Linked DNA regions of Homo sapiens. The protein of the gene in region 2 binds, or shares a complex with, the protein of the main gene of each other region. Each region holds a gene or a part of one and is shown on either strand. Other genes may lie near its edges. The genes, in order: FZD8 and LRP5.

The links.
Region 1: LRP5 (region 2) and FZD8 share a complex: the UniProt entries of both Homo sapiens proteins name them as parts of the wnt-signaling complex.

What each region holds. Positions count from the first base shown.
Region 1 is NC_000010.11:35,639,297-35,654,937, reverse strand, and holds the start of FZD8 (frizzled-8 precursor), read left to right. Parts: upstream 1-13,210; 5' UTR 13,211-13,508; coding exon 13,509-15,593; 3' UTR 15,594-15,641. Other genes in the region: zinc finger protein 469-like, read left to right, coding at 12,092-12,308, 12,525-13,210. UniProt on the Homo sapiens protein: Receptor for Wnt proteins. Component of the Wnt-Fzd-LRP5-LRP6 complex that triggers beta-catenin signaling through inducing aggregation of receptor-ligand complexes into ribosome-sized signalosomes.
Region 2 is NC_000011.10:68,415,419-68,430,642, reverse strand, and holds part of LRP5 (low-density lipoprotein receptor-related protein 5 isoform 1 precursor), read right to left. Parts: intron 14,316-15,224; coding exon 14,116-14,315; intron 7,155-14,115; coding exon 6,946-7,154; intron 5,542-6,945; coding exon 5,351-5,541; intron 4,666-5,350; coding exon 4,456-4,665; intron 1,069-4,455; coding exon 943-1,068; intron 1-942. UniProt on the Homo sapiens protein: Acts as a coreceptor with members of the frizzled family of seven-transmembrane spanning receptors to transduce signal by Wnt proteins.

The DNA.
Region 1 (15,641 bases), on a different chromosome or scaffold from region 2:
AAAAGAAACTCCTGAACATGTCTACATAGGTATATAATAAAAAATATTCAACACTAAGTGTACTCATGAAAATGTGGAAGTGATCACACTATTCATTAGTAGTAGAGTAGATTATATAAAGTGTGGCTTATTCTTACAATGGAATACTACAATCAGTTAAACATTTTCAACCAGATCAATATTAAGCAAACTTTTGAGTTTATAAAGCTATTTATAATCAGAACTTAAACATAGATATTTTATGTGTTTATAAGTTATAGTTTTTTGCAAGATTTTGTTTGGAAAAGAGAGTTCCACTTTTCCACAATGTTTAAAAACTGTGATATAATAAGTGGCCATGGAATTAGCTTCATCTGTAAAACATAACCCTTAAAACCTATCTTGGCCAGGCGCAGTGGCTCACACCTGTAATCCCAGCACTTTGGGAGGCCAAGGTGGGCAGATCACCTGAGGTCAGAAGTTCAAGACCAGCCTGACCAACATGGAGCAACCCCGTCTCTACTAAAAATACAAAATTAGTCGGGCGTCGTGGCACATGCCTGTAATCCCAGCTACTCGGGAGGCTGAGGCAGAAGAATTGCTTGAACCCAGGAGGCGGAGGTTGTGGTGAGCCGAGATTGCCCCATTGCACTCCGGCTTGGGCAACAAGAGCAAAACTCCGTCTGAAAAACAAAGCAAAATACAAAAAACCTATCTTGCATACCTGTCATAAGGCTTAGACATTGTAAATACATAGAGATGGAAACAGAGATCAAGGTAGATAAAGTGATACAGTCATGGGGCAGATTGTTATTGTCTACCCAAATCCACCTCCACTTCCCTTCTTTTCTTTTTTTCTTTTATTTGTTTATTTATTTCTTTATTTCTGATAGGGTATTGCTCTGTTGCCCAGGCTGGAGTGCAGTGGCACAATCACAACTCACTGTAGCCTTAAACTCCTGAACCCAAGGGATCCTCCGGCCTCAGCCTCCTGAGTAACTGGGACTACAGACATACACCACCATACCTGGATAATTATTTTTACTTTTTGCAGAGAGAGAGTCTCATTATGTTGCCCAGGCTGGTCCCAAACTCCTGGCCTCAAGCGCTCCTCCTGCTTCAAGCCTCCCAAAGCACTAGGACCACAAGGGTGAGCCACCACAACTGGCCCCTTTTTTATTTCTTATAACCCTTAATTTTATTCAGGTATTCACCCTCCTCCACATGGTTAGGTACTTCAGAGAAAGATGAACTAATTCCCAGCTCCAAGCATAGGGTAACCTGACTTAAGCCCATTGTGGTCATCCCATTCTTCCTGCCCATGATTAGTTTAGGGATGAGAATTCAAACTGATTCTACCAATGAAAGCTGCCAGGAGACTGCTGGGAAGAGGCCAAAATCCTGCCACCATCTTTTGACTTTGAGGTCACCATGGGTAAAACCCCTGAGGGGGACAGGGCAGAGAAACAGAAGGAACCTGAATCCTTGATGACGTTTTTGAAAATCTGTATCTATCAACCTGGAAAACTGCCCTACTTTTGTAAGATGACAATTTGTTTTGTAAGATGACAATTTCCATCCTGCATGAGCCAGTTTGAGTTGGATTAACTGTTATTTGTTGCTGAAACATCCTACATTATTTAAAAAGAAAGAAAAAGAAAAAGAAAAGAAAAGGGAGCAGGGGGCCAGCCCAGAGCCTAGCGCATAAAAGACCTGCTGTCATCCATGGCAGCTGAGATCATTATTCTATGCCACCTCCACTCATCCAGTCTCCTCTCTTGCCATCCTCCAATACATTAACAATATAACGCAGATCAAACTACTTTCCATCCTCATTCTGGTCACTCTTATTCTTAAGCAAAGCAACTATTCCCTATAGTTACCATTAGCATATATTCCAAACTTCATTTTTTCTAAGTACAGTTTTTATTGCTGACTTGGGAGATTTAGGAACAAGGGTGATATTCACCAGTCTGCAATTATGAATTATAGGTTAGGATTCACTCGGTTTAGTTATACCTACATTTTTACTCTAATAAAAAAAAATCAGGATGTACAATTCCAATAGATTACCTTCCAGCAGAAACCTTGGGTATTTGATTACCACAAGACAACCAAACTCCAGTAGAATCCTAATAGAAAATGAATCCTTTCAGATTTTTGACAGGTAAAACATCAGGTGAAGTTTTCTGTCCTTTTATTTTCAGATTGGAGGACAAGACCAAGAAGTTAACAAAATTAAGAGACAATGCCACAGCACATATACAGATAGACATCTTTTTCTGAATAGGAATCCAGAGACCACATGGATCACAGTGGAAAACATAATGAAGCCGGGTGCAGTAGCTCACGCCTGTAATCCCAGCACTTTAAGAGGCCAAGGCAGGCGGATCACTTGAGGCTGGGAGTTCAAGAAGAACCTGGGCAATGTAGTGAGACTCTGTCTCTAAAAAAAATTTAAAATAAATAAAAATAAATTTTAATTACCCAGGTGTGGTGGCATGCACCTGTAGTCCCAGCTACTCATAAAGCTGAAGTGGGAGGATCTCTGAGCCCAAAGTTTGAAGCTGCAGTGAGCTATGATCACACCACTGCACTCCAGCCTGGGCAACAGAGCAAGACCCTGAAGACCTATCTCTTGAAAGGAAGGAAGGAAGGAAGGAAGGAAGGAAGGAAGGAAGGAAGGAAGGAAGGAAGGAGGAAGGGAGGGAGGGAGGGAGGGAGGGAGAGAAAGAAGGAAGGAAGGAAGGAAATGATTAATAATCAGCAGCGTGATAGACCAACAAGTAAAAATATGAATCCTTCCTTTTTAGCCCCCAAGGTAGCAGGACATCCTATCACCAACTTAATCAAGGAAAATATCCTTCACCATGAGCAATGTTGCTTGCTAAGGCAGAGACTCTCGAATGAGGGTGAAAGCAGGAGTGTAATTGTAAGGCTGGGCACGGTGGCTCACGCCTGTAATATCAGCACTTTGGGAGGCTGAGGTGGGCAAATCACCTGAGGTCAGGAGTTTTAAACGAGCTGGACAACATGGCAAAACCCCATCTCTACTAAAAATACAAAAATTAGCTGGGCCTGGTGGTGGGTGCCTGTAATCCCAGCTACTCGGGAGGCTGAGGCAGGAGAATCATTTGAATCCTGGAGGCGGAGGTTGCAGTGAGCCAACATCATGCCACTGCACTCCAGCCTGGGTGACAGAGTGAGACTCCATCTTGAAAATAAATATATAGCCAGGAAGGTGAATCTGGTTCAGCTTGGGTAGCATAGGGGAATCCCCTGGTAGAAAATCCTGTAGTAACAAGTCCAGCAATCACATTCTACCAAAAGCTTGTAGGGAAGACTTAGTAAGCCAGGAGCTTCCCAAACGAGCACCTACCAAAAAAAGACAATTACCATGTTCAAAACAGAAATGACGCTCGAACAAATGGCTCCACATACCTCCAATATCTTCCAGAGAACAGAGAATGATGCAAAAATAAGATCATGTACAGAAAATAAGATGGATACTGCTGGAGGAAATATAAAGAACCAATAAACTGTAGAACTTTCAAAAGGGCATAGTTCTGTAGAAACTGATTTGTTTAGGGACATTAGCTGCAAAGAACTGGATATACCCACAGACTGAGACACCACCTGGTCCCCCTGAATTCTATGTTCTCTGTAGGTTCTTGGAAGCTGTTATTTACTCAACCCTCTGAGGTTCTGGAAAACATACAGGTGAGAAATAAATTTTCATCTCTGGCAGTCCTTATGCTTCCTAGCTGTTTAGTAAGGTGTTCCTGCATGTAATTACCCCACAGGGAGTTTGTGGGGAGACAAGGACATGAGCAAACATACAAACCACCCAGCTCGTTCTGCTAGACAGAGTCATTCTTTAACCTGGCCTCGTCTAGAGGCCCTGCAGGCAACTGGATTTCTTAAAGCGGGAAAGTACTCTTAAGCAAAGCAAGTTGTTCTGTAAGCAAAGCAAGTTGTTCTGGTGAAATAAATAACTAGAATCTTATTAGCAGATCCCACCTGCATGAAGTTATGGGGAAAAGAGGAGGAGAAAGGACTTAAGTTTTGTTGTTAATTAACACACGAAGAGCATATGAACCTGCTTCAATGACCACTAGGCTATAAAGCATCTGACCTTGGACAGCAGAAGTTAGTTAGACACAAAGAGATGGGGGCCTCTTGTCATGTGGTGCAACAGTCCCTAGGGTTTGGGGCAGACACCCTTGGTGACCTACCCAAGGCGACCCTACCCTTCTTCCTTACTAGCAAAACCCCGATTCTGTCCAAGTGACCCCTCGTGGTCAGGTCAGGCAGGGCTCAGTGATGTGACTTGTCACCCAATTCTGAACCATGAGAAATAAGAGAAAATCAGTTCCGGGAAAGCCTTCTTGGCACTGAAAATGAGGCACGAGAAGAAGAATGTCCCTCTTTGTGCCTCTGAACATTGGCATGTGAAGATGTGAGCTTCAGTCTGTAACCACTCTGTAATCATGAGGGCAACAAACCAACCTATCAGGCTGACAGAGAAAAAGATGGAAAGAACCCATCTTGATAACTTGTGGAGTCAGAGAATTAGCCAACTTCGAAGCCAGCCCACCTTCAGGTCTCGGGTAATGCAAGGTAAATATCTTTTCAGGCTTCCTGTTACTCCAAGTTGAAAAGATTGTAATAGATACTGAGCTCTATAGACTCCAAATGTAACCTATTTAAAGGTATGAATTATATCAACAGATTGAATACAAATAAAAATATTTCTGTCCAAGGAAAACTCTTGCTGTTGCATTAACAGCAAAGGCAGAGGCAATTTCCTACCATTGTGATTTGTCAGTGCTTTCTCGTGTGCCTAGAATTCTGCTCCTCTTCTCAAATAAACTTCTGATCATTCTTCAAAATTCCTGTGAAGTCCTTTCTTAGCTCTGTTAGGGACATTCACATGTTCCCTAATACTATTTCCGTGTACCATGTAAATATCTACTGAACAGCACTGGACTCATTCACCTGTGACTGTCCCATGTGAGTTTCCTGTAGAAGACGTAATGTCTTACTCATCTTCACATCCTTGCACTTAACAAAGGGCCTGGGACTCGGTTAGTGTGGCAGTTTTTAAATATGATCCCCAAATATTTGGCATTTCTTCCATTTTGTGGTAGGTCCATGCCCCTGCCTTTGAATCTGAGTGTGCTCATACCATCAGAGTGGGGCGGAAGTGATGCTGTGTGACTCTGAGGAGATGTCATATAAAGGGGCATGCAGTATTCACCTGGTTCTCTTAGGATGCTCGCTCTGGGGAGTGCCCCACCCCCCCAACCCCCTACTGCCATGTAAGAAGTCCAACCACTCTGAAGCTGCCATGCTGGAAAGGTCACGTGGGTGGCTCCAGGGGACGGTCAGCATCAACAGGCCACCACAGGAGTCCCCCCCAGCTTGGTTGTTTAGCCCCCTCAAGCCTTCAAATGACCCTAGTCCTGTGGACAGCTGAGTTCAATGGCAGGACAGGCACCAAGCAAGAGACCTGCCCAGTCAAGCCTTTCCTAAATTCCTGACTCTCAAAATTAGGAACAAAATAAAATGGTTGCCTTGAGCCACCATGTTTTGGGATCACTGCTGTACAGCAACAGGAACCAGAACAGTTGGTACTAAGTAAATATTTATTGACTTTACTTTGAACTCATTCTAAACTAGAATTTTTCAAACTGTAACTTGCCAGACAGTGTTTTAAGACAGCAGGCCCAGAGTTCATATTTATGTTGTGATACTATTTCAGTAAGCTGAACATATTAATGCATCATTTTTTTCTTTTATCTATATGGTATCATTTTACTACAAATTATACTTCTGTATACTATAAGCTTATCCCTATAGAAGTACATTTGCTTCTAAGAGCAACCAAGACTCATACAAAAAAAAACAAACAAAAAACAAATGCTGTCACCTCTAGAAAAAAAAAAATGCTGTGTTTACCTGAATCCAGTCAAAGATAGACTAAAATAGAAAGAAATGCCTTTGTCATCCCTACCATCTCCATGTCCTGAGTGCCCTAATAATTATAATTTGCATTACTGATGGAAAATTTTATCAGTAAATGGTGGTTTCAGACCACCATTTAAAATGGATCATTGTTACCAGACATAAACCCTTGCCTGGACCAATTTTTTGATATAAAGCTTCCTGCACATTCATAAGCAGTTCAGTTGGAATTCAAAAATTTCCCTTGCATTATATTTAAATTAGTCAATACAAAAAAAAAGTTATTCAGAGCATGATGTAGGCTTATTTTAAAAATAATAAAAACTTTTGAAAAATGAAAACAAACAGGCCAGGCCTGGTGGCTCACTCCTGTAATCCCAGCACTTTGGGAGGCCGAGGCAGGCAGATCACTTGAGGTTAGGAGTTGAAGACCAGCCTGGCCAACATAGTGAAACCCTGGCTCTACTAAAAATACAAAAATAAGCCGATCATGGTGGTGAGCACCTGTAATCCCAGCTACTGAGGAGGCTGAGGCAAGAAAATCGCTTGAACCTGGGAGCTGGAGGTTGCAGTGAGCCAAGATCACACCATTACACTCCAGCCTAGGCAACAGAGTGAGACTCCATCCAGGCAAAAAAAAAAAAAAATGAAAACAAACGAACAAAAAAGTTATATGGACAAACTAACAAAATGTTTCATGGATAGGCTTAAAAGAAACACAGAAACTAAAACTCCAGAATTGCATCAATGTTTTTTGTTTGTTTTTGAGATGAGGAGTCTCACTCTCTCACTCTTCTGGCCCAGGGTGGAGTGCAGTGGCATGATCTCGGCTCACTGCAACCTCTGCCTCCCAGGTTGAAGTGATTCTCCTGCCTCAGCCTCCCGACTAGCTGTGATTACAGGCACCCACCACCACGTGCAGCTCATTTTTGTATTTTCGGTAGACATGGGGTTTCACCATGTTGGCCAGGCTGGTCTCGAACTCCTGACCTCAGGTGATCCACCCACCTTGGCTTCCCAAAGTGCTGGGATGGCAGGCGTCAGCCACCGTGCCCAGCCTGTGTCAATGTTTTTAGTTAAGTCTCCAAATGGGAGGGGGAGTTCTGAAGAAAAAGGAAATAGGGAGTGAGTTCCACTACAGTGAATGCACACTGCAAATAAAATGCGCTGTAAACTGCTTGACGTTTATTTCATACTAAATGTACAAAGAACTGTATTGTGTGAACTTCAAAAAAAAAATGTAGATCTCAAGGTTTTCTTGGATCTAGATCATGCTTAATTTATAACCCTGCATAAATTCCGCTGTAAGACCAGGGAAGTTGACTCAATGGTATTGCTTGGAAGTTCACTGCTTTCACACAGTAATGTGCATCTGACACTGTGGGTTGTCCCTCCTCCCCTTCCTGGCTACCAGTGTCCCCATCAACAGCCACTCTCCAGATCCTCACTTTCACAGCCTCTCTTGCAGCTAAGAGTGGCCAAGTGACAGATTCAGACCAGGTTGCCCAAAGGGGAAGTTAGCCAAGGGCCTTCAGGGAAAGGCTGTCATTCCTAAGGGAAGAAAAATATCATAGCAGTCCTCCAGCCCTGGCCACAGTCCAATGTGACAATTCAGTGGTGGGAGGCCCCCTGTAACCAAAGGGGAAACCAACAGTCTAGAAGCCAACCTGCAGCCCTAACCTCCTGGAGCTGCAGAAAGAACTGACGGTGAAATGTCTGCTTCTAGACTTATTGATATGTTGAGATGTCCTTCTTGGCTAAGCCACTTTTACCCGGGAGGTCTTTACTGGACCTGAAATCTACCAAACTAATGCACAATGCATGCCATAATAAGAGCTTCAATATCTGGCAAATATTCCCATGTGGATGAGAAAAAAAATCAATTATTGATTTTTAAAACAAATTTTAGAATAATTATCAACTTAAATAATGGCAGTGCGGTCGCCGTATTCCAAAGCAGCAGCTGCATGTAAAGTGAGCATGGGCCTGCCAGCCAGTGGCACAGGTGGGCCTGTTATCTCCATCCATGTGCACCTTGGCCTGGTGACAGCAGACACAGCAAAGAGTACTTCCTTCCAACAGGATCTCTTTCCTGGCAGTGGAGAGAACAGAAGCAGCAGCACTTCAATTGAGTTTCATGTTAATAAGGAAGAATATAAAAATAATCTCACCTGTTTAAAGCTAGCAGAGATTGATGAGGCCAGTTCACCTCTACCTCCCCTTCCATTTATGGACTGAGAGACTCAAGACATAACCCTTTGAAAGGCAGATTTTTAAAACACCAAGATGCCCCAATATTACCATTAGAGGTTTTGTTATTGTTGTTGTGGGTTTTGTCTTTTTTTTTTTTTTTTTTTTTTTTTTGAGACAGGGTCTCTTTCTATTACCTAACCTGGAGTACAGGCATGATCACGGCTCACTACAGCCTCAAACTCATGGACTCAAGCGATCCTCCCACCTCAGCGCCTCAAGTAGCTGGGACCACAGGTGCGTGCTACAGGCCCGACTAATTTTTTTTTTTGTTTTAGACAGACTCTTACTGTGTTGCCCAGGTTGGAGTGCAGTGGCAAAATCTCAGCTCACTGCAACCTCTGCCTCCCAGGTTCAAGCAATTCTCTTGCCTGAGTCTCCCAAGTAGCTGGGATTACAGGCACCCACCACCATGTCCAGCTAATTTTTGTATTTTTGGCAGAGACAAGGATTCCCCATGTTAGCCAGGCTGGTCTCGAACTCCTGACCTCTAGTGATCCTCTGACCTCGGCTTCCCAAAGTGCTAGGATTACAGGCGTGAACAACCACCGTGCCTGGCCTTGTTTTTTTGTTGTTTTTTTTGTTGTTGTTGTTGTTTTGTTTTTGGTTTTTTTTTTTTTGGTAGACTCGGGTCTTACTATGTTGCTCAGACTGCTCTCCAACTCCTGGCCTCAAGCGATCCTTCCACCTTGGCCTCCCAAAGCACTAAGACAAACGTAAGCCACTGAGCCCAGCCAGTGATAAGAATTTTATATTATCTAATAATATAGTACTTAACTGTTTTCTTGAGAGAAAATAATATTTGGCATTTATTTATTTAGAGACAGGGTCTTACTCTGTTGCCCAGGCTGGAGTGCAGTGATACAGTCATGGCTCACTGCAGCCCCAGCCTCCAAAACTCAAGTGATCCTCCCACCTCAGCCTCTGGTGTAGCTGGGACTACAGGCACATGCCACCGCACCCAGCTCATGTTTGTATTTTTTGTAGAGACAGGGTTTTGCTATGTTGCCCAGGCTGGTCTCGAACTCCTAGACTCAAGCGATCTGCCTGCCTCAGCGTCCCAAAGTGCTGGGATTACAGGCATGAGTCACCGTATCTGGCCAATATTTGGCAGTTTATAACACCTGAGAAATTGTATTAGTTACCAAAGAGTTCCTCATTTAATCTTTGGAACGTATCATTCTGTTAGTATATGCCAGGCTCTCTCTTCCATCCAGATTCTTATATTGGATTTTTAGATGGTAATCCACTGGAACATGATTTCCCCAAAGTTTCTTAAATTTGTTACAGACAGTATTGATAGTCCCCTGTCTAACTCGGTAGCCAACGTTTTGTAAAACCTTCCCTCCTCTGAGGTAGATTCCTGATTCCAACTGTTTACATTATTTGCTTGCAGGCCATTCAGCAACAAGCCATCTGCTCAGAAATCCCTTTAGAAACTTCCCTACATTATTTATGTCACTACTAAAGCTATTTCCCCTCCCCTAAAAAACAGCTGCTTTACATACAATGAAAATATCATTATTTAGCCATAGAAGTTGATATATGTTCTGGTTACTTCTAGGTAACCCATCATTACCTTTTACGCACTAATTGGCTACAGAAGTCTCTCCCTTCTCTGAAAGACTACCAAGTAGCCGTTTAATTTAACAGTAGATGTAAAATGCGATTCTTATATTCTCTCAATTAAAAGTACATTTGTCATGACTTTTATGTAACTGGTTTTAACCTCACAAATCACTAAGATCTCCCAAATAGCTGATATGATTTTTGAAATTCTGAACTTCAGTCTGCTTATTTTCTCATGCAAACTTAACATACTTACCCAAAATTTCCACATTCCACATCATCAAACTTTTCATCTTGTCTCAAAAGAAAAAAGAAAAAAAATTTAAAGCCAATTAAGAGCCAAAATCAACCATTTTCAGCTTCAATTTCAATTTTCAAATGTCAGTTTGTTTTTACCCAATTCTAGCAAATTTATGTAGTGTAATTCTAAACTTCACTATTTGACATTTCCCCGTGGAAGAAAAGCAACAGAAACTTTTCACCATCTGTGTTGCTCTTGGAAACCAGCCCCTCCCATCTGTGGTGCGGGCAGTGCAGCACCCTTGCTGGTCTTTGGGGCTCTGCCTGCACCGCTGCCCTCAGATCAGCACTGGAACCTCTGGCAATTACCTGCAGCTGATGCGTTCTGGAGACTCGCCCTCTGGAAACAAGGTGCCAACCGCAGAGATAGTGAATTTCTACATTCAACATACAAGTGGGAATTCCGATTTGCAGGAGGTGAGAAAAGAAAAAAAATTTTTTAATCAAGTAAAGGTCTAGTCTGTATTTTTGAATAGCCCGTTTTCTGCTGAATCAGCTAATATTTCTGAAGCCTTTGAATTCCGAATTCCTACGGACTTTAGTTTTTCCAAAACAAAAGTGGGAAGGAAGTGTTGTTTTTCAGTATAAAGAGGTTCAACTCTATAGACTAAAACTAAAAAAGTTAAAAAGATAGGGGGGTATAACTATAGATTGGTGGATATGCCTAGAACACAGAACTTGCCAAAAACGGGGCGCTGGGGCAGGGTGCGGTCTGACAGTCTACTTGTAATATGTTTCATAATGAGGTTGCTAACTGAGCTACAGAAAGCAGGAGGAGGAAGACATAGATGCCATCAGCTCAAGCAATCTACAAATACTGCTGGTTATTTTTGTTTTATGACAAGAGTTGTTTCTGAACGGACAACCACGAGCTACCACCACCACCAGCAGCGCCCCGAAAACCGGAACTGGCCTCAAATGTACTTTTAATTCTTTTGCTCTGTCCCCACGCCCTCTGCAACTTTTGTTCTCCAACTGTACTTGTTCCGGTATGAAACCTGGCAAATAGCAAAAATCTTGAAACAAGAAGAGAGTGAGAGAGCGGAGAGAAAAGGGAGGGAAGGAAGGAGAGGGAGGAGGGGAAGAGGAGGAGGGGGGAGAGAAAGTGGTGGGGGAGAGAGAGAAGGAAAGGAGGTGGGGAGAGAGAGAGAGGGAAGACAGAAGAGAGGCAGGGAGGAAGAGGGAGAGAGGGGGACGGAGATGGGGAGGAGGCGGGAGGGAGGGAGAGAAAGAGAGAGAGAAACATATTCTGCCACCCTCCTGGCTAACTGAAATGCTTGTTCCCGAGATTACAGTAATTACTGCCCCAGCATGAGTTCCATACAAGCGCTAAATGAAACAGCACATCAATTAAAAAATAAACACTCCATTCTAGGAGAAAGACAGCCCCCTGGGACGCCCTAACAAGCGTAAATGAACCTGCCAGGCCGCCGGCCCGGGCCGCCCGCAGCCCCCCTCCCGGCCCGTCTTAAGGTGGCGGCGGAGCCGGCGGGGGCAGCGTTCGCTGGCGGTGGCCCAAGCGGCTGCTAAAAGCAGCCCGGGTCCGGCTCCGGCCTCGTGCAGAGAGCAGATACGTGTCGCGGAGTCCACGCCAGAGCGCAGCGCCGCCTCCCACCAGAGAAAAGGAGGCTCTGGCAAAAGCCTGTGAACTTGGGATGGATGAATAGACGTCCTGAAAGAACGAAGGGAAGACAGGGAATCCAGCCCCAGAGTTTCCAGCCTGTCCTATTTATAAGTTTCGAGGTTTGTTTTGAATTTTAGAAAGAAATTGAATGATTTTTCCTAAGAAAGCACGGCGGCTCGGGGCTTCCTATATTTTATCTCACCTAATTATCAAAGCCCCCTTGGAGATCTGTGCTATGATCACCCAACTCTCTAGGTGGGGAAACTGAGGCTCCCCCAGGTCACGCAGCGGAGGCGGGAGGAGAGTCTCTGGCGGGCATTTGTCCCCCGCGCCCCTCGCGCGCCCAAGGCTGGGCTCCGGGGCATCTCACCCGGGCCGTCCCGGGTCCAGCCCCAGTTTAGAATGACTCCACACCCCCCACATCTCCAAGTCTCAGAAACCATCGTTCTGAGAACCCCAAGGAGGACACCCTTTCCCGGGTCTTCTGCAGCGCCGAGCCCCGGCAGGCCTCCCCGGCGCTCGCCTGCTGCGAGACCTTCCTGCCGCCCCGAGGAGCACGAGACCCCAGCCGCCTGCAGATCACCCACATTTGCGGAGGGTGGCAGCAGGGGCTTGGCTGGTTTGAAACGCGCCGGGGAGGCGCGCGCTGCACCAAACCCCGTCCCTGTCCCCAAGGGCAGACTCGGGGTAAGGGGACCAAGACCTCCGACGCACTCAGCGCCATGGGGACAGCCATGGCCAACACTCTGTCTCTGCGGTCAATCCCAAGGTTACCAAAACTCTCCATCCGCAGAGAGCGCGCACAGCAGTGCGGACACTCGGGGACTGCCTTAAGGAAGGCTGAGCCCTGGGAGCGCGTGGACTCCGCCCTACCGCCCGGCGATTGGCTCGCGGGGCTGGGGGCGGAGACCGAGTCCGCGCTGTATAAATATTCATGAGCCGGCAGCGCGGCGCGAGCGGGGCTGGAGCCGGGAAGTTGGGCTAAGGGCGCTGCTCCCGCCGAGGAGGAGGCGGCGGCTGGGCGCGGGCCGCGCCACTCAGGTGTCCGCTCCGCCTTCCGGTCTGGATTTGCTCCTGGGTGTCCAGCAGGAAGGAGACTGTGTGCACCTCGCCCGACTGCGGCCGGAGCGCGGCGCTGACTTTTCCAGGCGGCGGGGGTCCGTCTGTCCCGGCGGCGGACGGACGAAGGACGGACGCCGGAGAAAGAGGGCGGCGGCCTGGGCCGAGGCGGGTCCCCAACTCCGGCGGCGGCGGCGGCGGCTTGGCCTTGGGGGCGGGCATGAGCCCCCGGGGGCCGAGTGGTGGCCGCCAGGGCTGACCCGGCGCGGCAAGCGGCCCGGCCCAGCCATCTTGACTGCGCACCGCGGCCCCAGAGGAAACTTGCGGCGCCTCCGCCCTCTCTGTCCGGCGGAGTCACCGCCGCCCGGCGCGGCGGGGAGAAGTGGTCGGGCGCGCGGAGAGGAGGCGAGCGAGCGCGGGACGATGAGCCGAGGCCCGGCCGCTCTGCGCCGCGAGGGCTGAGCGCGACCCGGGGCCAGCAGAGCGGACCTACGGACTGTGGCGCGCGCCTGCAGCCGCCTTCAAACCCCCGGAGCGGCGGAAAGGAGTGCGGAAGGGCCCTGCCCAGGCTGCGGGCCGCGCCGCTGCGGACGCGCCCCTAGAAGGGGTTAGATTATCGGCAGACCCCCCTCCCGGGCGAAGCATAAGGGAGACCCCAGATCACCCGCTGTACCCGTCTGCGGCTCTCTCGTGGGCCCCCCCCCCGGCACCCCTCTGCGCGCCGCCTGGAGGGCGAGGGCACCGGGCCGAGGCGCACAGCATGGAGTGGGGTTACCTGTTGGAAGTGACCTCGCTGCTGGCCGCCTTGGCGCTGCTGCAGCGCTCTAGCGGCGCTGCGGCCGCCTCGGCCAAGGAGCTGGCATGCCAAGAGATCACCGTGCCGCTGTGTAAGGGCATCGGCTACAACTACACCTACATGCCCAATCAGTTCAACCACGACACGCAAGACGAGGCGGGCCTGGAGGTGCACCAGTTCTGGCCGCTGGTGGAGATCCAGTGCTCGCCCGATCTCAAGTTCTTCCTGTGCAGCATGTACACGCCCATCTGCCTAGAGGACTACAAGAAGCCGCTGCCGCCCTGCCGCTCGGTGTGCGAGCGCGCCAAGGCCGGCTGCGCGCCGCTCATGCGCCAGTACGGCTTCGCCTGGCCCGACCGCATGCGCTGCGACCGGCTGCCCGAGCAAGGCAACCCTGACACGCTGTGCATGGACTACAACCGCACCGACCTAACCACCGCCGCGCCCAGCCCGCCGCGCCGCCTGCCGCCGCCGCCGCCCGGCGAGCAGCCGCCTTCGGGCAGCGGCCACGGCCGCCCGCCGGGGGCCAGGCCCCCGCACCGCGGCGGCGGCAGGGGCGGTGGCGGCGGGGACGCGGCGGCGCCCCCAGCTCGCGGCGGCGGCGGTGGCGGGAAGGCGCGGCCCCCTGGCGGCGGCGCGGCTCCCTGCGAGCCCGGGTGCCAGTGCCGCGCGCCTATGGTGAGCGTGTCCAGCGAGCGCCACCCGCTCTACAACCGCGTCAAGACAGGCCAGATCGCTAACTGCGCGCTGCCCTGCCACAACCCCTTTTTCAGCCAGGACGAGCGCGCCTTCACCGTCTTCTGGATCGGCCTGTGGTCGGTGCTCTGCTTCGTGTCCACCTTCGCCACCGTCTCCACCTTCCTTATCGACATGGAGCGCTTCAAGTACCCGGAGCGGCCCATTATCTTCCTCTCGGCCTGCTACCTCTTCGTGTCGGTGGGCTACCTAGTGCGCCTGGTGGCGGGCCACGAGAAGGTGGCGTGCAGCGGTGGCGCGCCGGGCGCGGGGGGCGCTGGGGGCGCGGGCGGCGCGGCGGCGGGCGCGGGCGCGGCGGGCGCGGGCGCGGGCGGCCCGGGCGGGCGCGGCGAGTACGAGGAGCTGGGCGCGGTGGAGCAGCACGTGCGCTACGAGACCACCGGCCCCGCGCTGTGCACCGTGGTCTTCTTGCTGGTCTACTTCTTCGGCATGGCCAGCTCCATCTGGTGGGTGATCTTGTCGCTCACATGGTTCCTGGCGGCCGGTATGAAGTGGGGCAACGAAGCCATCGCCGGCTACTCGCAGTACTTCCACCTGGCCGCGTGGCTTGTGCCCAGCGTCAAGTCCATCGCGGTGCTGGCGCTCAGCTCGGTGGACGGCGACCCGGTGGCGGGCATCTGCTACGTGGGCAACCAGAGCCTGGACAACCTGCGCGGCTTCGTGCTGGCGCCGCTGGTCATCTACCTCTTCATCGGCACCATGTTCCTGCTGGCCGGCTTCGTGTCCCTCTTCCGCATCCGCTCGGTCATCAAGCAACAGGACGGCCCCACCAAGACGCACAAGCTGGAGAAGCTGATGATCCGCCTGGGCCTGTTCACCGTGCTCTACACCGTGCCCGCCGCGGTGGTGGTCGCCTGCCTCTTCTACGAGCAGCACAACCGCCCGCGCTGGGAGGCCACGCACAACTGCCCGTGCCTGCGGGACCTGCAGCCCGACCAGGCACGCAGGCCCGACTACGCCGTCTTCATGCTCAAGTACTTCATGTGCCTAGTGGTGGGCATCACCTCGGGCGTGTGGGTCTGGTCCGGCAAGACGCTGGAGTCCTGGCGCTCCCTGTGCACCCGCTGCTGCTGGGCCAGCAAGGGCGCCGCGGTGGGCGGGGGCGCGGGCGCCACGGCCGCGGGGGGTGGCGGCGGGCCGGGGGGCGGCGGCGGCGGGGGACCCGGCGGCGGCGGGGGGCCGGGCGGCGGCGGGGGCTCCCTCTACAGCGACGTCAGCACTGGCCTGACGTGGCGGTCGGGCACGGCGAGCTCCGTGTCTTATCCAAAGCAGATGCCATTGTCCCAGGTCTGAGCGGAGGGGAGGGGGCGCCCAGGAGGGGTGGGGAGGGGGGCGAGGAGA
Region 2 (15,224 bases):
GTCAGGAAGGAAGGATAGAGACAACCTGATGAGCACTATTAACCAACTGGATCTAATTGATGTTTCTGGAACACTCCACCCAACAACAGCAGAATCCACATTCTTTTCAAGAGTACACAGAACATTCACCAAGATAAACTGCATGATGCTGGGTGATAAAACACACCTAATGGCCAGGCACAGTGGCTCACGCCTATAATCCCAGCACTTTGGGAGGCCGAGGTGGGCGGATCACGAGGTCAGGAGTTCGAGACCAGCCTGACCAACATGGTGAAACCCCGTCTCTACTAAAAATACAAAAATTAGCTGGGTATGGTGGCGTGCACCTGTAATCCCAGCTACTCAGGAGGCTGAGGCAAGAGGATCACTTGAACCCGGGAGGCAGAGGTTGCGGTGAGCTGAGATCGCGCCATTGCACTCCAGCCTGAGTGACAGAGCAAGACACTGTCTCAAAAACAAAACAAACGAAGCAAAACAAAACAAAAAGACACAAAAACAATAACAACAAAAACACCACACCCAACACATTTAAAATAACAGAAATCATATAAAATAAGCTCTCAGACTACAGTAGAATTAAATTAGAAATCAGTTGCAGAGAGACAGCTGGAAAAGCCCCAACTCTTTAGAAACTAAGCAACACTTCTAAATAACACATGAGCCAAAGATGTCATCTCAGGAGAAGTGTAAAAATATTCAAACTACCTGAAAATGAAAATGTAACAAAATTTGTGAGATGCAGGAAACGCAGTACTTAGAGGAAAATTCATAGCACCGAATGCACATAGTAGAAAAGAAAGGAGGGCAAAGGAAGACACAATCAGCTTTGGAAACTGGATGCCACAGGGACTGTGATTTTAAAAGGATGCCAGGCAGCAGCCTAGCAGGCAGAGAATCAGGTACCTGTCCATCACCCCAAAGGAGCACCTAGGTCACACCTACCTCCACAGGTCAGCAGGTTCTGCAGGAGCACGAGGTGGACTGGGCATGAGCACCGTGGTGTCCCATCACCCTTGGCAATACAGATGTGGGAGCAGCCACCATTGTCACGGGCACATGGGTGGGCTGCTGCAAAGACAAAACAAGACAAACAGAGGTCAGGCTCTGTCTCCCACCTCAGAACCACAGCCTGGAGGGTAGGGGCCAAATGAGAACTCATGAGAACTGGCCCTCCTGCAGGCCCGGCCTCTCTGGGAGGATCCTCCCACTTATTCCTCTTGGCAGCCTACAGAGTCTTCCTACTGACACGGAAATTGACACACAAATGGATGCCGGAAACAATTACAGAAGTTGCTTGACATCACAGGCCAGCCTGTCTGCACCAGTCTCTACTGTGCCCATACCATCAGTCTGAACTGCCCACTTGTCTCTCCTCCTATTTACTTACTTTGAGACAGGGTCACACTCTGTCACCCAGGCTGGAGGGCAGTGGTGCGATCATGGCTCACTGTAGCCTTGATCTCCGTGGGTCGAACAACCCTCCTGCCTCAGCCTCTTGAGTAGCTGGGACTACAGGCATGCACCACCATGCCTGGCTTTTTTTTTTGAGACAGAGTCTTGCTCTATCGCCCAGGCTGGAGCGCAGTGGCATGATCTCGGCTCACTGCAAACTCCACCTCCCGGGTTCATGCCATTCTCCTGCCTTAGCCTCCCAAGTAGCTGGGACAATAGGCACCTGCCACTGTGCCTGGCTAATTTTTTTTTTTTTTTTTTTTTTTCACTTTTTGTAGAAATGGGGTCTCATCATGTTGCCTAGCTACTTGTAAACTCCTGGGCTCAAGTGATCCTCCCGCTTCAGCTTCCTAAAGTGCTGAGATTACAGGCGTGAACTACCACACCTGGCCCTCTTCCCGTCTTTCATTGTATAAGGGGTTGGATAGTGCCCCCCAGAAAGATACACCCATGTCTTAAGGCCTAGAATCTGTGAGCATAACCTTTTTTTGGAAAAAGGGTCTTTGCAGGTTAAGGATCTCAAGACGAGGTCATCTCGGATGATTTGGGTGGGCCCTAAACCCAATGACAAACGTCCTTATAAGAGGCAACACAGACAAGAAGAAGAGGTAAAGACGCAGACACAAAGGAGATGGACACATGAAGATGGGCAGAGGTTGAGGCGGCGCATCCACAAGTGTGGAACGCTGGCACCCACAGCACTGGAAGGGCCAACAAATAGATCCTCCCTGGAGCCCCCAGAGGAAGCACAGCCCTCCCAACAGTTTGGTCGCAGGCTTCTGGTCTCCAGCACATTGGGGGAATCCATTTCTGTTGCTTTAAGCCATCCAGTTTGTGGTCATTTGTTACAGCAGCCGTGGGACACTAATACACATGGGAATTAAAATAGCAAATGGTGCCAGGCGTGGTGGCTCATGCCTGTAATCCCAGCACTTTGGGAGGCCGAGGTGCGTGGATCACCTGAGGCTAGGAGTTGAAGACCAGCCTGGGCAAAATGGCGAAAACCCGTCTCTACTAAAAATACAAAAAAATTAGCCTGGTATGGTGGTGGGTGCCTGTAATCCCAGTTACTTGGAAGGCTGAGGTAGGAGAATCACTTGAACCTGGGAGGCAGAGGTTGCAGTGAACCGAGATCGCGCCACTGCACTCCAGCCTGGGCGACAAAAACGAAACTCCATCTCAATAAATAAATAAATAAATAAATAAATAAATAAAAAAAATAAAATAAAATAAAATAAAATAAAATAGCAAATGGACCAAGTCCCTGGGAACTCGCGTTATTCTATCCAGTTAACCAAATGTGTCCAACACCCGGACAATGAGAAGAAGAGGAGGCAGCTTGGAGGGAGAGCTGACCACACCCAGGTGGAAGAAATGACAGAAGACGCTCTGTTCCCTGCCCCACCCAGAAAAATTTCACAGTGTCCTTACTCAGTCTCAAGGATTCAGTGTTCGGTTTTTTTGGGATAGGGTCTCTTTGTCACTACCACCCCTGGCCCTTTTTTTTTTTTGAGACGGAGTCTCACTCTATTGCCTAGGCTGGAGTGCAGTGGCGTAATTTTGGCTCACTGCAACTTCCGCCTCCCAGGTTCAAGTAATTCTCCCACCTCAGCCTCCCCAGTAGCTGGGAATACAGGCGCCTGCCACCACACCCAGCTAATTTTTGTATTTTTAGTAGAGACGGGATTTCACTATGTTGGGCAGGCTGGTCTCGAACTCCCAACCTCAAGTGATCAGCCCACCTTGGTCTCCCAAAGTGCTGGGATTATAGGCATGAGCCACCAAGCCCAGCCTGGTCCCTTTTTGTTTGTATTTTTTGTAGGGATGGGTTCTCACCATGTTGCCCAGGCTGGTCTCAAGTAATCCTCAGATGGTTACCATGGAGGGGAGGAAGGACTGTGGTCCCAGCTGTGGAGGCCCCTCCCCCAAGCCCTGGGACACAGCAAGGCAGTGGCAGGCAGAATCCTAAATGACCCCGTAATTTCCCACCCCAGTCCCCAGCACGGCGTCATGACCTTATGTGGCAGAAGGGATTCTGCAGATGTGATTAAGGTTATTAATCAGCCGACTTGGAGTCTATCAAAGGGGAGGCTAACCTAATCTAAAGGTGGCTGAGCCGAATCACAGGGCCCTTTAGAAGCAAATCAGAGAGACTCAAGGTGTGGGAGGGACTGACGCAGGGAGCCCCCACTGCTGAGGCAGAGAGGGCCACGGGGCAAGGACCTGTGGTGGCCTCTAGGAGCTGAGAGTGGTCCCCGACCAATAACCAGAGAGAAAACAGAACCTCGATCCCACAACTGCTACCTGCTGAGTGAGCAAGGAAGCTAATTTCTCCACAGAGCCTCCGCTGAGGGCCCAGCGTTCCTGACACCTTGATTCTGGCCCCGTGAGACCCTGAGCAGAGAACCCAGGTGAGCCACGCTGTGCCTGGACTTTGCCTTACAGAACTGAGAGACAATCCGTGGGTGTTGTCAGGCCAGTGGCTCACACCTATAATCCTAGCACTTTGGGAGGCCACAGCAGGCAGATAGCTTGTGCCCAGGAGTTGCAGACCAGCCTGGGCAACATGGGGAAACCCCGTCTCTACAAAAAAAAATTAGCCAGGTGTGGTGGTGCCCACCTGTAGTCCCAGCTACCTGGGAGGCTGAGGCAAGGTGTTCACTTAATTAAGCCCAGAGGTCGAGGCTGCAGTGAACTGTGTTTGCACCAGGGCACCCCAGCCTGGGCAACAGAGCAAGATCCTGACTCAAAAAAAAAAAAAAAAAAAGAGTTGGTGTTGTCTTAAAACGCTGTTCGTGGTGATTTGTTCTGCGGCAAAAGAAAACAACCTCAGAGGCCTCGGGACATTCGGACATGTCGCTGAACCCCAGCGGGCAACAGTTGGCATCTGGCAGAGACCACCGCCTGGCTGAGGCCACACAGGATCTTGCACTGGCCTCCAGCCTCCTCCAGGGGTCGGGTTTAGAGGCCACCCTGCCCACCCCACTGCCAGCCCCCACGTACAGAACTCCTCCAGGCTGACTTCCTCCACTGCATGGATGCCAGTGAGGTGGGCGACACGGCCCTGGATGCGAGTCCGCTTGTCCCCGGTGGTCTTCTCCACACGCTCGATCATCTGCTGCTGGCGGTCGATCCAGTAGAGATGCTTGCCAAGGATGGTCAGGCCCAGAGGCTGCACGATGTTGGCGTCCTCCAGGGTCAGGCGGTTGGCCCCTGCAAGCAGCCCGTGGGCCCCCCTGAGCAGTGCTGACCTCCAGAACTTGCCCCACACTCAGCTTGGGAGGACAGAGGTTGACAGGACTGCCAGGGAGCCTGGGGGATTCCATGCTTTGGACAGGGGTGGGAGCTGCAGCAGAGTCCCTGGAAGCAGGCCGACCCAAGACAAGCCCTCGGAAAGCCCTGCTCCCACCTGGGCTGGGCTCGGGATGAAGGCCATCAGTTCCAACGGCGGGCCTCGGTCACTGGCCCCTGCAAGCATGGCCCCTCCCTTCACCCATCTACCTCATCATAAGAGGAAAAGCCATGGGGACCTGCGCCCCCTCTCTAAGCACCAACTCTCATTTCTCTCCAGCCCTCGCAGCCTAACACAGTCCAGAGCAGAGCAGCTTCTTGCGCAGGTGCTGGGGGCAGAGGCTAGGCTGCAGTCCTGCTCCATCTCCTGCTGTGGGGCCCCAAGCAGCTCGCTCACCCTCTCTGAGACTCATTTTCTGCCTCTGCCCTGTGGGGCTCACTCAGAACCCCAGCCTACAGCTGTCAGTGTGAGGACAAAACACGCTACACACAAAGCCCCTGGCGCGGCACTGGGCTCACGGCAGGTCTCGGACAATGTGGCAGCTGCTGCCATTACTGACAATGAAGGCCGGGTGTCTGCGGTTAGGGCAGGCCCCGGGGCGCGTACCTGACAGGTCACAGCTCTCAATGCGCTTCAGGTCCGCGTCCACCCAGAACAGCTTGCCCAGTGTGTTGTCCACCACCAGGGCCACAGGGCGGATGAGGCCGGTGGTGAAGAGGACCTCGCGCTCGGTGCCGTCCAGGGCTGCGCGTTCGATCTTGGCTGCCCGGTCCTGCATGTTGGTGAAGTACAGGTACCTGCGGGAGGGTGGCGGGTGAAGGACGGGTGTGGGGATGGCGTCTCCTCGGACAGCACGGAGCCCAGGGCACCCAGCTGGGCTGTGGAAAGCCCCTGCCTCTCAGGGCTGCCCGAGGCTGACAGGTCACATTCTATACTAGTTGAACAATGCTCTCCAAATTCCCGCTCACCCCAGAACCTCAGAATGTGAGCTTATTTGGAAGCAGGGTCTTTACAAATGTCATGAAGGATCAAGATACGACCACAATGGGTGAGGGTAGGCCCTAAATCCAACTGAAGTGTCCTTCAATGGTACAGAAGAGGCCACGCCATGTGCAGCCAGACAGAGAGACTGGAGTGACAGGACCACAAGTCAAGGGGTGCCTGGAGCCACCAGAAGCCCAAAGGTTCCCTCAGAGCCTTCAGAGGGCGCAGGGCCCTGCCCACACCTCGATCTCGGGCTTCAGCCCTCAGGAACTGTGAGAGAACAAGTGTCCATTACTCTCAGCCACCTGGCTTCTGGTAATTTCTGACAGCAGCCATGGGAAACAGGTGCAGGCCCCCCACAGCTGCTAAGGACCCCGGAGCCCTGGCTGTTGGGAGACCAGCTCGGCTGGCTCCTGCACAGCCGCCTTATAGACCCGGGGCTTCCGCCCACCGAGCCCCCCGTGTGCTGCAGAGGCCGCACCACTGTGGCCGTCACTCCTACCAATGAGGAAACTGAGTCTCCAAGAGGCTATGCCACCCGCCCAAGGTCACGTGGCCAGTAAGTGACAGAGTCAGGGCTCAATCTCTGGGCTCCCGGCCCAGGACCTGTGCTGGCTGTAGCTCCCGTCTTCATGCCAGCCCCCCAGCTATCTGAGGAAGGCCATCGCGCTCCTGTCCCCAAACGTTCCCGTGCTCAGTTTGGAGCCTGAGTTTCATGTCACATGGGTTTCGGTCTCCCTCTTTCCCTGGCTTTTCTCTCTGGAGACCTCAAGGTCCTGGGTGCCTTCCCACCAACCAGAAGCTCTGACGACCAACAGGTGGGAGCGTCGGGGGCCTCTGGGAGGAAGAAGCCCAGGAGCTCCCTGTGGTGGAACAGGAGCGAGTCAACAGGCAGCCCCCATGCCGTGGAAGGGATTTCTGCACAGGGTTCAAGTTTAACAAGGATGATACAAAACCTATCAACTGCAACTCCCGTCGGCCAGCGCTGCCTTGTAACCTCTCAGCAGAGCTCCCCCTTCCCTTCCAGCCCTTGGGGCTTTCTGCTTTCCTGGAGGGGCTGTGAAAGAGCCTGTGTTTGCTTTTGGGACCCTGGAAAGCCACCCATTGGATCCCCAGGGTGGAAAGTCTCCCCAGCCTGTGAGAGGCTGGCATTCGGCAGAAGACACGGCGGGCACGCCTGGACGGGCAGCACCCCCACCCACCCGTTGGCCTCCTACCCTCGCTCCGCGTTGACGACGATGGCCCTGGGCTTGTCGCGGTCCCCACGCAGCACCACCCCCATGGCTTCCCCGCTCAGCCTGTGGACGTTGATGGTATTGGTGGCCTCGCACGTCCAGAACAGTGTCCGGCTGTAGATGTCGATGCTGAGGTCGTGGGGCTGCCTGTCTGGGTTTTGGCCTTGGCTCAGAGAGGTCAAAACAAAGGGCTGTAAGACAAAGAAACCAAGACTCCTGAGCACTGGCGGAGACCCCTGGGCACTGGCGGAGACCCCTGGCACTGGCGGAGACCCCCGGGCACTGGTGGAGACCCCCGGGCACTGGCTGGAGAGCCCTGGGCACTGGCTGGAGAGCTCTGGCAGGACAGCAGAGGCCACACTTCTCAAGTTTAGCCTGAAAGTCAAATCCCAGTATTGGTGTGGGGGTCTCTCCTCTCCAATCAGCTCCTAACTACGTGCCCGCCTGAGTATGCCAGAGCGATTAGGACAACAGCCTCTGGAAGAGCTCTTGCCGCCTCGGACTTTAGGCCTCCTCAGCCACCCGCCGGGCACCCAGCTGTGCATCACTAGACTGGCGCTCCCATGAAGGCCCCATTGACAGTCGAGAAGGGATCCAAGACCATGGGGCCCTTCCCAACACATCCCTGTCTCCTCCACCTTCCAGGACTCAAGCTTTTGGACTGCGGCCCTCACGTACTGTTTTCTCTGCAGGGCACCAGGACAGACAGTTTGGGGGCCGCCCCTTACAACCCCTTCCCCAACGGAAGGAGGCCAGGTGAGGGGAGGGCAGGTGAGGGTGGGGGTTAGGTGAAGGTGGGGGACAGGTGAGGGTGCAGGGGCGGGTGAGTGGGGGAGGTGAAGGTACAGGGGAGGTGAGGGTGGGTAGGGAAGGTGCGGGTAAAGGGATCGGTACAGATGTGGGGGTAGGTGAGGCTGGGGGCCAGGTGAGGGTGGGTAGGGGCAGGTGAGTGTGGGGAATGACTCAGAGCCCCTCTTGGGAAGGCAGGGCAGCCACGTCTCTCAGTGACTCTCAAGGACTCTCCGTCTCCACACTCTCTGGGGTCACCGTCCAGGAGATGCTCGAGCGCTGCCTAAGCCCAGCCCACCCTGTGCATCTCAGGGATGAGCCTGGGCTTTTGGGGCCTCCGACACAGCATCCCTTCGAAGGGCTCTTACTGAGCTGACGTAGGAGGAGAGGACAGCCCAGAAGCCTACTGCCTGCGGGGATCTGGTTCCTTTGGGTTACCCTGAAAGACAGCTGCATCCAAGTTCCCGAGTGATTTGGCCTGGGGCAAATGGGGCCTGGAGCACCTGGGCTCCTGCCACCCAGGCCTGAAGGAAAAGCTCCCCTCCCTCTCCATTGAGTCAGAGGGAATCATCTTAGGATGGTGCTCTGATAGTAAGTCTTTTCAGACTTTCTTTATCTAGGTCTTTCAGCAGTTAATAAAACAGGGAGACAGCAGTGGCTCACACCTGTGATCCCAGAATGTCGGGAAACTGAGGTGGGAGAATCACTTGAGTTCAGGAGTTTGAGACTAGTCTGGGCAACATAGCAAGACTCCATCTGTATCAAAAAAAATTAAACCAACCAAACAAAAAAAACAATAGCTCAGTATGGTGACGCACGCCTACAGTCCCAGCTATTCAGAAGGCTGAGGTGGGAGGATCGCTTCAGCCTGGGAGGCCGAGGCTGCAGTGAGCTATGCTCATATCACCATACCCCAGCCTGGGTGACAGAGTGAGACCCTGTCTCAAAAAAATACAAATAAAACAAAGTCTCTAAGTAGATAAAAAGAAGCGTCTTCCCCAGGCCCAGTCTCTTGGACCCAGATGGAAAGGGTGCCTCCCCCATACACACACACACACCACACACCACACACACGCGCACACACACACACACACCCCACACACACACACCCCCAGATGGAAAGGGTGCCTCCCTCCCCCATACACACACACACACCACACACACACCACACACACACACACACACACACACACACACACACACAGCCTTGCTGGGCAGCTGCAAAGACATCATCACTTTCATCTGGACACGAAGGATCATGTGTCTTTGTAGATAACAACATCCACATCACTACAGAGCTGTGGACCCTAGGGGGCCATGTGTCAAAGCCAACTGAACAAATTCCTTCCTAAAAGCCACTAGCTGTGGACCCTGGACTGGTACAGCTGCCGGGCTGAAAGACAAGCAAGATTCCAGCTACCCTGGCCAAAATCAGGCTCACCGTGGAGGGTGGGTCTGTGGGAACCAGATGCAAAAACAGACTTTGGGACAGCAGTCTGGAGAACCACCATCTGAGAAACGTGTACTGTGTGACGTGACACCCTGGCCACACTCCTCCCGGGCACAAAAACAACACAGCAAACTTTACGCGGCTGGCCAGTTTCATAAACCCTGAACTCTTTTTTTTTTTGAGACGGAGTCTTGCGTGAGACAGAGTTTTGCGTGAGACGGAGTCTTGCTCTGTTGCCCAGGCTCGAGTGCAGTGAAGCGATCTCGGCTCACCGCAAGCTCCGCCTCCCGGGTTCACGCCATTCTCCTGCCTCAGCCTCCCAAGTAGCTGGGACTACAGGTGCCCGCCACCACACCTGGCTAGTTTTTTGGTATTTTTAGTAGAGACGGGGTTTCACCATGTTGGCCAGGATGGTCTTGATCTCCTGACCTCATGATCCGCCCGCCCTGGCCTCCCAAAGTGCTGGGATTACAGGCGTGAGCCACCGCGCCCGGCCCCTGAGCTTTCATTTTAATGTAGTACAAATACTTATGGTTAGTGCAAACTTTCTTACCAGAATCCTATGCAACACCACAAACACGCCTTTTCCTCACTAGTACAAAACCTTCACCACGGAAGGAAATGTTCATAGTGGCCTTATTCACGACAACCAAAGGTGGAAGAAACCTAGCACCCGTGGATGGATAAATAACAAGAAGTGGTCCGTCCATCCATCCGATGATTTTTTTTTTTTTTGAGACAGGAAGTCTCACTCTGTTACCCAGGCTGGACTGCAGAGGCACAATCTTGGTTCACTGCAACCTCTGCCTCCCGGGTACAAGCGATTCTCCTGCCTCAGCCTCCTGAGTAACTGGGATTACAGGTGCGCGCCACCACACCCAGCTAATTTTGTACTTTTAGTAGAGCCAGGGTTTCACTATGTTGGCCAGGCTGGTCTCAAACTCCTGACCTCAAGTGATCTGCCCACCTCGGACTCCCAAAATGCTGGGATTAGAGGGTGTGAGCCACCGCGCCCAGCCTTTACAACGGGTTATTATTCAGGCTTTAAGGAAGGAAATTCTGACACAGGCTATAACACAGATGAACCTTGAGGACACCATGTCACATGAAAGAAGCCAGTCACACAAGGGCAAATATTGGTATAATTCCACTTACATGAGGTACCTAGAGAAGGCAGAGAGAGATACAAAGTAGAATGGTGGCTGTCAGAGGGAGATGAGGAGTGTGTTCAATGCGGACAGTTTCGGACATCTGCCGAGAAGGTGAAGTAGTCTGGAGATGAATGGCAGTGATGGTTACCTCGTGAACTGACTGAATGCCACTGAACTGTCAACTGCAGAATAGGTAAAATGGGCTGGGTGCGGTGGCTCGCGCCTGTAATCTCAGCACTTTGGGAGGCTGAGGTGGGTGGACTGCTTGAGTCCATTTCAAGCCCAGCCTGGGCAACATGGTGAAATCTGTCTCTACATAAAATACAGTTAGCCAGGTGTGGAGGTGCACAACTTGAGCCTGGGAGGCGGAGGCTGCAGTGAGCCAAGAGCCCACCATTGCACTCCAGTCTGGGTGACAGGGCAAGACCCTGTCTCAAAAACAAAAAAAGGCCGGGCACGGTGGCTCACACCTGTAATCTCAGCATTTTGGGAGGCCGAGGCGGGCGGATCACCAGGTTAGGAGTTCAAGACCAGCCTGGCCAACATGGTGAAACCCCGTCTCTGCTAAAAAATACAAAAATTAGCCAGGCATAGTGATGGGCACCTGTAATCCCAGCTACTCGGGAGGAGGCTGAGGCAGGAGAGTCGCTTGAACCTGGGAGGCAGAGGTTGCAGTGAGTTGATACCACGCCACTGCACTCCAGCCTGGGCGATAGAGTGAGACTCCATCTCAAAAAAAAAAAAAAAAATTAAAATGGCTGGGTGTTGTGGCTCATGCCTGTAATCCCAGCACTTTGGGAGGGTGAGGTGGGAGGATGGCTTGAGTCCAGGAGTTGAGACCAGCCTGGGCAACATAGCGGGTCTCTACAATAAAAAAAAAATACAAAAAATCAGCCAGATGTGGTAGTGTATGCCTGTAGTCCCGGCTACTAGAGAGGCTGAGGTGAGAGGATCACTGGAGCCCTGGAGGCTGAGGCTGCAGTGAGCCATGATCGCACCACTGCACTCCAGCCTGGGCACTGGGGTGAGACCCTGTCTCAAAAACAACAATAACAAAACAATTAAAATGGCAAATTTTATGTTATATATATTTACCACAATAAAAAATAAAAACAATTAATAGAAAACAAAACCTCGGCCAATTGGATGATAATTTAGACACCATCTTTTGGGGGAGCAGGGGGACTCCTAATAAAGAATCAAAGCCAGAGTCCACAGAGCGGGGAGGCTGCAGGAGGCTGGACCTTAGCAAAAGACACAGGAGGGGAAAAGCACATTTTCCAAATTAAGTGGAAAACCTTCTGGGTTTTCTTCCAAGTCTTCATCACTTCTGCCTAGCAGACACCATAAAAGAACGCAGCTCCAGTGAAACTCTAAGGCAATGTACGCCCAGGAGCTTTCTCAGCATGGGAGCCACATCCATCAATTAACACGTCCCTCTCTCCAAAGGACTCCACGTGACAGTCACCTGTAGCAAGCAAGATGAAAGGAATCCATTTCCACCACCCACACCACAGCAGAGGCAATGATCACAGCTGCCCAGGAGAGAAGCTCCAGGGAGCCAGGCATGGCTCTGAATTTCAATTCGGCTGACTTTTGCCATCAACCAAGGACACAGACCTCACAGTACAACGTAACTAGAAACTGCTGCGGGAGGAAGGATCTGGTGGAAAGGGGCGTCCAGCCTGTCTGGACGGCACCAGCCTTCAGATGGGGAGCACAACAGCGAAACCGACGGCGGACATGGCGACCCATGTGAAAGTCTCTCCAGGCGCTCAGCCTCTCTCTGCCTCAAGAAAGTACCAAGATTTCACCACAATAACACAAGCTCCCACACCAACACTCGGTGGAGAAAGAGGCCGTGTGGCTCTGTAGGTTTTTTTTTTTTGAGATGGCGTCTCGCTCTGTTGCCCAGGCTGGAGTGCAATGACATGGTCTCAGATCCCTGCAACCTCCACCTCCCAGGTTCAAGCAATTCTGCCTCAGCCTCCCGAGTAGCTGGGACTACAGGCGCGTGCCACCACACCCAGCTAATTTTCGTATATTTAGTAGAGATGGGGTTTCACCATGTTGGCCAGGCTGGTCTTGAACTCCTGACCTCGTGATCCACCCACTTCGGCCTCCCAAAGTGCTAGGATACAAGCGGGCTCTGCAGTTTTTGTAAAAGAAGGCTGCTTAGGAGCCAGGCCTGTCCTGGAATTCTACACTAATGAACCTGTTGTGCCCCATGCTGCAGACTCCAGGTGGGCCTGAGGCCGCCGTGAGCACATCATTTGTGGAACAGGCCACACAAGCCTGACTCCGCAAAGTGCTCACTTCCGCTACAGCACTTGTTTTTCTATTTTTTATTTTTTGAGATGGAGTTTTGCTCTTGTTGCCCAGGCTGGAGTGCAATGGTGTGATCTCGGCTCACCGCAACCTCTGCCTCCTGGGTTCAAGCAATTCTCCTGCCTCAGCCTCCTGAGTAGCTGGGATTACAGGCACCCGCCACCACACCCAGCTGATTTTTGTATATTCAGTAGAGACGGGGTTTCACCATGTTGGCCAGGCTGGTCTCGAACCCCTGACCTCAGGTGATCCACCTGCCTCGGCCTCCCACAGTGCTGGGATTACAGGTGTGAGCCACCGCGCCCAGCCTAGCAGTTGTTTCAAAAATGCAAATCTGGCCGGCCGCGGTGGCTCATGCCTGTAATCCCAGTTACTCAGGAGGCTGAGGCAGGAAAATCACTTGAACATAGGAGGCAAAGGTTGCAGTGAGCCAAGATCATGCCACTGCACTCCAGGCTGGTGACAGAGTGAGACTCCATCTCAAAAAAAAAAAAAAAAAAAAAAAAAAAAAAGCCAATCTGTTCCAATGCAATGATGTATTAGGACAATTTGAGCACAGCACGGTTTCACATTTGCTCATGCACAATTTCCTCCACGAGAAACATTAAGTGAATGCAAAAAACTACAGCCGGCAGGGAACTGCGCAGGGTCACACCCACACACACACCTCCGTCTCTGACCTCCCTGGGCTCACTGCTGGGGCCATGACCCACTCTTCTCCACGCCTGGGGTGAGAACTTTCCATTTGATTTCCCACAATCCTCCTTCCAGTGTTTCACAAAAACTCATGCGCTACACCCTTCCACACTCATAAGCCAACTCCAGATCTTCCCAAGGTGAAGTGCCGTATTTATTGCAGCATTAACGTTTACGAATGCACAGTATTGTGGGATATAGCTAACCATTTAATGTGCAAAAGGCACTTTGCTATTTCCCAGGTTCCTCTCTTTTCTTACATGTCATTGATGGAGATTTTGAGGGCTGTGCCCTGGCCCCGCTTTCCCTATGAGTTGTGTCATTTTTACTGTGCGATTTTGCATAGGTGTCTTTCAGAAGAGCATATACAGCATTGTAGCAGAAATGACTGTACAGTTCCCACAAAATAAAGGATAAACCTGGATTAACCAGTACCAACTACCCCTGCATGACACACGACCATTTTCTTTCTTGAAAAGACAAAAGTCCTGTGGGGTCTGACCCCACCATGACTACTTAAACAACGGGGAAACCCAGTTTCTACATATAATCACAGTCTCGGGGTTCCACGCATCTCAGGGTCATACCCTGTGACTACATAATCGAAGCCCAAGTCATCATTCACCCAGAGCCATCCTCTGTTTCCTCCCTCTGCTAAGGACAGGGGCAGCAGCCTGGAAACCAGCAAGAGGAGCGCCTTGGGAAGCACACCCCGCACCCTTCCCACAGGGCACCTGCCTGGGTCCCGTCGTCCTTGGCTCGCTTGATGTTCTGGCGCCCATCCACCCAGTAGATGAACTTGTCCAGTGGGTCATAGTCGATGGCTTTGACGTTCCTCAGTCCATGCAGGGGCAGGATGAGATCCGGGCTGTGCTGGTCGTCCGGGATCATCCGACTGATGGCAGATTTCTGGCTGAACAGCAAGAAGGTGGTGGGCGCTAGAGGAGGCAAAGACAGGGCTGCAGGTGGGTGTCTGTAAGCCACAGAGGAGCTGGAGGACGGGATAGCACGCCACTCGACAACAGGCGGCTCAGCATCTGCCCCGCTGGAGGTCCACGGGAAAGACGGGGGGACCAGGGCTGTCTCTTGGGGGTGCGCTATGGGGAATTTCATTCTCCGTGTCATATGTGTCTCTGCTGTTTCAAAGTACATGTGTTATTTTTGAAATAGATCATAAATTTATTTTTCTTTTATTTATTTATTTTTTTTTTGAGATGGAGTCTCGCACTGTTGCCCACGCTGGACTGCAGTGGTGCTATCTGGGCTCACTGTAAGCTCTGCCTCTCGGGTTCACGCCATTCTCCTGCCTCAGCCTCCTGAGTAGCTGGGACTACAGGCGCCCGTCACCACGCCTGGCTCATTTTTTGTATTTTTAGTAGAGACGGGTTTCACCGTGTTAGCCAGGATGGTCTCGATCTCCTGACCTTGTCATCCGCCCGCCTTGGCCTCCCAAAGTGCTGGGATTACAGGTGTGAGCCACTACGCCCTGCCATTCATTCATTCATTCATTCATTCATTCGAGATGGAGTTTCGCTCTTGTTGCCCAGGCTGGAGTGCAGTGGCACAAAATGAGCTCACTTGAAACTTCCACCTCCCAAGTTCAAGCGATTCTCCTCTCTCAGCCTCCCAAGTAGCTGGGATTATAGGCATGCCCCACCATGCCCGGCTAATTTTGTATTTTTAGTAGAGATGGAGTTTCACCATATTGGCCAGGCTGGTCTTGAACTCCTGACCTCAGGTGATCTGCCCGCCTCAGCCTCCCAAAGTGCTGGGATAACAGTCATGAGCCACCGTGTCCAGCCCAATAAATTTATTTTTAAATGATGAACACTTAAGACGGAAGGCAG